Linked DNA regions of Homo sapiens. The protein of the gene in region 1 purifies or fractionates together with the protein of each later gene. This does not show direct contact. Each region holds a gene or a part of one and is shown in the gene's direction. Other genes may lie near its edges.

What was found. The genes of interacting proteins can lie anywhere in the genome.
Region 2: the proteins of NDUFAF2 (region 1) and SUGP2 fractionate together in Homo sapiens (co-fractionation; one large-scale study listed by BioGRID). This does not show direct contact.

What each region holds. Positions count from the first base shown.
Region 1 is NC_000005.10:61,147,705-61,151,204, forward strand, and holds part of NDUFAF2 (NADH dehydrogenase [ubiquinone] 1 alpha subcomplex assembly factor 2), read left to right. Parts: intron 1-3,500. UniProt on the Homo sapiens protein: Acts as a molecular chaperone for mitochondrial complex I assembly. Complex I functions in the transfer of electrons from NADH to the respiratory chain. The immediate electron acceptor for the enzyme is believed to be ubiquinone.
Region 2 is NC_000019.10:19,023,518-19,027,017, reverse strand, and holds part of SUGP2 (SURP and G-patch domain-containing protein 2), read left to right. Parts: intron 1-791; coding exon 792-2,399; intron 2,400-3,500. UniProt on the Homo sapiens protein: May play a role in mRNA splicing.

The sequences.
Region 1 (3,500 bases):
ATACTTGAAATGTGGCTAGTATAATTCAGTAACTGAATTTTTTATTTAATTTAAATGGTATGTGGCTAGTGCCTACTGTATTGTACAGCATAGGTCTCCAATAAGCTGTACTCTCGTGCCAGTTTAGTCCTACACCTAAGGAGTGACCCTTCCGGGATCTTTACAATGTCTCAGGTGTTCAACGAGCTCTCCCTGGCTGGTTAGAACTTGACTTTTTCCTAGTCCAGTGCAAGCTCCAGCAATTTTCAGCCTATAGTTCCCCAGTATTCTTTAGTGAGAAGTTGTCCTTCCTGCTTTATGGAGTTTCACCGCGCACATGGACAGCTTAATATTCAGCTGAACACTCAAGTGGGTTACTATGCAGATTTCTAAAACTTACTCTGTGTATTCTGGTACTCCGCCTAACATATCCCAGCATATTCCAGCTTTCTCAGGCTCCCTAAACAACCATCTCTATCTCTCCATAAACCACCATCCTCTGGTTGGGTTCCCCCACCCTGTGTAGCAACCAGTAATGTGTCTCCAGCCAGAAAGCTGGGATGATATAGGGTTTATCTAATTTGTTACTCATTGATGCCCTTCAGGGATCACACTACTGTGCTGCCTATTGTCCAGTATCTGAAAAATGTATTTTTGTCCAGTTTTCTAGTGGTGCCATGGCAGGAGGACTAGCCTGGTACCAGTTATTCCATCTTTTGTCTGAAACTAGTAGATTACCTCTTACTAACATCTCTACCCATTTCAGAGAGAGATGTGTACAAGTTTGCTATGTTTATTTTTTAATAGAATGAAATCACTATTTTAAGATATATTTGTACCTTCTGTTGTACTATCACTGCCCAGTAGCCAGTTCTTTCCCAACCTTTACAACAGCCCATTGAAGAAGACAACATTATCTCCATTTCACACAACATGAAAGTGAGACACAGGGAAGTTAAATAATATTCATAGAGTCACACAGCTGGTAAATGGTAAAACTGGGATTTGTATTCAGTGGTCTGGCTTCAGAGCCCAAATTCTATGCCACTATTGAGAAACATTCAGTGAATAACAATGTGAAGAGTATACATATGAGTAATTTGAGGTATAAATATTTATACTTACATAGTCACATATAAACAAGATTCAATTTTTAAATCAATAATGTTTGGCTTACATTAGAATATGGAAAAATCTGTAATCTGCATAAACTTTTCAATCTTTAAGGGAACTCTAGAGGTTACTTAAGGGGAACAAAAGGAAGATACTTCCATTTGGTATTGTTGGTTTATTCATTTATTTTTTGAGACAGAGTCTTGCTCTGTCACCCAGGCTGGAGTGCAGTGGCGTGATCTCAGCTCACTGCAACCTCCACCTCCCAGGTTCAAGCGATTCTCATGCCTCAGCCTCCAGAGTAGCTGGGATTACAGGAGTACACCACCACACCTGGCTAATTTGTGTATTTTTAGTAGAGACAGGGTTTTGCCATGTTGGCCAGGCTGGTATCAAACTCCTGACCTCAAGTGATCTGCCCGCTTTGACCTCCCAGAGCGCTGGGATTACAGTCGTGAGCCACCACACTGGCCCATTTGGCATTGTTTTATAAAAGCTTACTCACCTTGTAATACATAACTATCTTAGGAAACATAATACTGTTATGAGTATAAGCCCCATTTTCAGATAAACTGAGACTAAAAAAGTTAAGTAGCTTTCTTGGTGTCACACGGCTAGCAAATGGTAGATTTGGGATTGGAACCCTGTCTGAGTCAAAGAATTACCCATGTGGATTGTCACCACAGTGTTATTTTTTTTAATGAAGAAGTGAAATATTGGAAGCAACAGTAGAGGTAGTTGTTAAGTAAATCATGGTACAATACTAGTGATAAAATAACATTCAGCCATCTTTTTTTTAAATGTTAAAGAAAAATATTTATTGGCAACAAGATAAATAAGTAAAATGATGAATATTTGTTTTTAAAATACAAACATTTATGTGAAGAAAGATGCCCGTTCCTGCTTTATCCTTACACAAACACTGAAACATACTGTTATTTGATAAACGTATGGAGATATAGGGTGATATTGTTCCAAGGAATTGGAAGGAAAAATACTTGCTTTTTGGTAGTTTGTATTTGCAAATAGACTTTCTTAAAAGTCCTTAAGGTCTACAATTCCTATCCTGTTTTCTCCACCTAACTACTTTCTTATCAATTCCAAATATTTTCATTGTTGTTGTTTGGGGGTTTTTTTGTTTTGTTTTATTTGAGATGGAGTCTTGCTCTGTCACCTAGGTTGGAGTGCCGTGGTACAATCTCAGCTCACTGCAACCTCCACCTCCCAGGTTCAAGTGATTCTCCTGCCTCTCAGCCTCCCGAGTAGCTGGGACTACAGGCATGTGCCACAATGCACAGCTAATTTTTGTATTTTTAGTAGAGACAGGGTTTTCCCATGTTGGCCAGGCTGGTGTTGAACTCTTGGCCTCAAGTGATCTGCCCGCCTCGGCCTCCCAAAGTGCTAGGATTACAGGCATGAGCCACAGAACCTGGCCCTTCAATTCCAAATATTTACAAGACCGTATTTCCTTTCATAAATGATTTATGTTCTGTTTAATTTTGCCTGGTACCAGTTATGTTTTTGGTACCAGTTTTGTTTTTTCAGAAAAACAAAAGGAAATTCTTTTTTAGGAAAAACTATAGTCTCCATATTTTTTAACTCTGAAATCTTTAACCATCTTCATATATAAAAATAATTAATATATTCAGATTGGCTTTTCTTTTGCCTCAATAGCTATTATAAGAAAGTCTTAGAAGAGTAATGTTGAATAAAGAGAAATTATGTGAAGGCAGGAGAAACAAGAACAGATCTTTGCCCTCCATTTTCTTTTCATCAAAAAGCATATGCATGTACCAACTGTAAGACTGCAACTATAGAGGTGACATAAATAAAGTAGGCAGGGGCACAGCTTCAGGTGACATGACTGATCTATTATACAAAATCCAAGCAAGCTCCATACCAATTTCTGAGTATCCTCTTGCTGCTTGAGGTCGGTTACTAGTGGAAGTTTAACCTGGTCCTGAACTTTTCATTCCGCTCCAAAGAACGAACTTCCATTAAGACACAGGGACTTGAATTTTTGTCTACTTCCACTATTTCCAGTATGATATTGAGGAATTTCCTTTGTGATACATCATCACCTTATATAAGAATTCTAGAGGGTATAGGAAGAAGAAAACCTGATTTCTCTACTCTCACCCTCACTTGGAGCAACCATACAGAACTCGCTTACTGTGGTGATTAAACTACTCATGGGGAATTGCTATGTGTTGTGAAAATTACAAGAATATTTATAAATATTGTTCTTTCCTGCACATATTTGCTTTGAGGGAGAAGTTTCATTAGATGGGCCCTTCTTCACATCTAAAACTAAGTCTTAACACTAAAACCACAAAAACTTTTCCCCCTTTAAGTACAAACTATTATTTTAAATGTTACTTTAATATCAGAGCTTACCTTTTTAAAGG
Region 2 (3,500 bases), on another chromosome or scaffold:
TTGAGCCACTGTGCCTGGCCCATTTCCCCTTTTCTACATGGAGAAGGACAGAATTGGGCACTGTTCAGTTTCCATCATGGCCTCTCTTGATGTATCTTGTTAAGCTTCTGCCTTCCCTCCTGCCTGCCTCGGTCTGTGGTTTTTCAGCTCCAGAGAGAGGGTTGATTGGCCTGGCCGACCTTTCCGAGGGATGGGTTCAGCCAGCTTTGGGTCAGCTGTGGTGGGTGTGGTGTTAGCTATGGTTCCTCTAGCCTCACGGTGGCACTGTGGGCTGAGACTTCCTTCTAAGAGGCAGTGAAGGCAGGTAGCCTCAATAAAACCTGTCTGTTCTGAGATAGAAGTAGAAACACAGAAGTGCTCCAGTTGCAGTAAAAATATCCAGGTTATTTGGGGACCAAACACCCTTTCCTCAGACTAAAAGAGGGATTGTCAACCCAGATGGCTAGAGAGTAGGGGGATCTGAATGAGCGAGGGCTGTTGGTGCCAACTTAGAGAGTCTGTGTCTTGCCCGTCAGGCTGCTACTGCCCAGCCTGGGTTGACGTCATCAGGGCAAACTCAGGCTTGGTGCTTATAGGTCTTCTGTTTTAGTAAGTAGTCGATCCAGATTTTTAAGTGACACCACACGCATTTTAAATGTTGGCAGCAAATACAGATTGGCAAAAAGCACTGAGGTGTATAAAGCAGTTTTGCTGCCTGGTGATCCGTGGACTGTTTGTTTGCACTGTTTGCATTCTCTGGTCTAAAGTATCTTTTGGCTTCTTCTTTTTTTTTTTTGGATGGTTTATTTCAGATCTCTTAAGGGCAGTCCCAAGATCCAGAGCAGAGATGTATGATGACGTCCACAGCGATGGCAGATACTCCCTCAGTGGATCTGTAGCTCACTCTAGAGATGCCGGAAGAGAAGGCCTGAGAAGTGACGTATTTCCAGGGCCTTCCTTCAGATCAAGCAACCCTTCCATCAGTGATGACAGCTACTTTCGCAAAGAATGTGGCCGGGATCTGGAATTTTCTCACTCTGATTCTCGGGACCAGGTCATTGGCCACCGGAAATTGGGGCATTTCCGTTCTCAGGACTGGAAATTTGCGCTCCGTGGTTCTTGGGAACAAGACTTTGGCCATCCAGTTTCTCAAGAGTCCTCTTGGTCACAGGAGTATAGTTTTGGTCCCTCTGCAGTTTTGGGGGACTTTGGATCTTCCAGGCTGATTGAGAAAGAGTGTTTGGAGAAGGAGAGTCGGGATTATGACGTGGACCATCCTGGGGAGGCTGACTCTGTGCTTAGGGGCGGCAGTCAAGTCCAGGCCAGAGGTCGAGCTCTAAACATCGTTGACCAGGAAGGTTCCCTCCTAGGAAAGGGGGAGACTCAGGGCCTGCTCACAGCTAAGGGGGGTGTTGGGAAACTTGTCACATTGAGAAATGTGAGCACAAAAAAAATACCCACCGTGAATCGTATTACTCCCAAAACTCAGGGCACTAACCAAATCCAGAAAAACACTCCAAGTCCTGATGTGACCCTGGGGACAAACCCAGGGACAGAAGATATCCAGTTCCCCATTCAGAAGATCCCTCTGGGGCTGGATCTGAAGAATCTTCGGCTCCCCAGAAGAAAGATGAGCTTTGACATCATAGATAAGTCTGATGTTTTTTCAAGATTTGGGATAGAAATAATCAAATGGGCAGGATTCCACACCATAAAAGATGATATTAAATTTTCCCAACTTTTCCAGACTCTCTTTGAACTTGAAACAGAAACCTGTGCTAAAATGCTTGCCTCATTCAAATGTTCCTTAAAACCAGAGCACAGAGATTTTTGCTTTTTTACTATCAAATTTTTAAAGCACTCTGCTTTGAAAACACCCAGAGTTGATAATGAGTTTTTAAACATGCTTTTAGACAAAGGTGCTGTGAAGACCAAAAATTGCTTTTTTGAAATCATAAAGCCTTTTGACAAGTACATAATGAGACTTCAAGACCGGCTTCTGAAGAGTGTCACACCTTTGCTTATGGCCTGCAATGCCTACGAGCTAAGTGTCAAGATGAAGACCCTCAGTAACCCCCTGGACTTGGCTCTTGCCCTAGAAACCACCAACTCTCTCTGCCGGAAGTCTTTGGCCCTTTTGGGACAGACATTTTCCTTGGCCTCTTCTTTCCGGCAGGAGAAAATCTTAGAAGCTGTCGGCCTGCAAGATATAGCTCCCTCACCTGCTGCGTTTCCAAACTTCGAAGACTCCACTTTGTTTGGGCGAGAGTACATAGACCACCTGAAGGCCTGGCTAGTCAGCAGCGGATGTCCCCTCCAGGTTAAGAAAGCCGAACCAGAGCCGATGCGAGAGGAGGAGAAAATGATTCCTCCTACGAAACCTGAAATTCAGGCCAAGGCTCCAAGTAGTCTGAGTGATGGTAAGGAAATCAGCCAAAGTTTCTATTTGTTGTTTTTCGTGTTTCTTTGGTAATGTCTTTTATTCGAGATTTTTTTACACAGAAGTTCTTTAGCCAATTGGAAACATATCAGGATTTTAGTAGAAAACGCACATTGGCCAATATATGTCTGCCATTCATTCTGTGAATGTGTATTAGGAATCTGCTGTTTACCATAGAAGTCTTTAGACAGCCGGGTGTGGTGGCACATGCCTGTAATCCCAGCACTTTGGGAGGCTGAGGCGGCAGATCACTTAAGACCAAGAGTTTGAGACCAGCCTGGCCAACATGGTGAAACCCCATCTCTACTAAAAATACAAAAACTAGCCGGGTGTGGTGGCACGCACCTGAAATCCCAGCTACTCGGGAGGCTGAGTTAGGAGAATCCACTTGGACCTGGGAGGCGGAGGTTTCAGTGAGCTGAGATCACCCCACTGCACTCCAACCTGGGTGACAGAGCAAGACTCTGTCTCAGAAAAATAAAAATTTTTAGACATTTTTAGGTCAAATACCTCTCTGGGAATTTGGTAGAAAGCTGTGGCCATTGCCAGAAAAAATGCTCATCTATTCACGCACAATTTTACCTATATCATCCGGGGGATTCGTACCTTTCTGCAGCCAAGGTTAAGAACGCTTGTTCCTTTTTTTTTCTTTTTAACCTTTGAAAAAAAGAAGGGTTGACTTTCTTTCCTTGTTTTTGTTTTTTTGAGACAGGGTCGTGCTCTGTCACCCAGGCTGGAGTGCAGTGGCATGACCATGGCTCACTGCAGCCCCGACCTCCTAGGCTCAAGTGATCCTTCCGCCTCAGCCTCCTGAGTAGCTGGGACTATAGGCATGTACCACCATGCCTGGCTAACTTTTTTTGTATTTTTTTGTAGAGAATCATGTTGCCCAGACTGGTCTCGAACTCCTGAGCTCAAGTGATCTACCTGCCTCAGCCTCCCAAAGTGCTGGGATTATAGGTGTGAGTCACTGCACCTGGCCTGGAACCCTTGTTCCAACATGTCCCCACAAGGTATTACTAGAAGGGAGAAAAGACACAGAGCACTGTCTCTGAGGAATCCCCAGGCTCCTGAGGGAAGA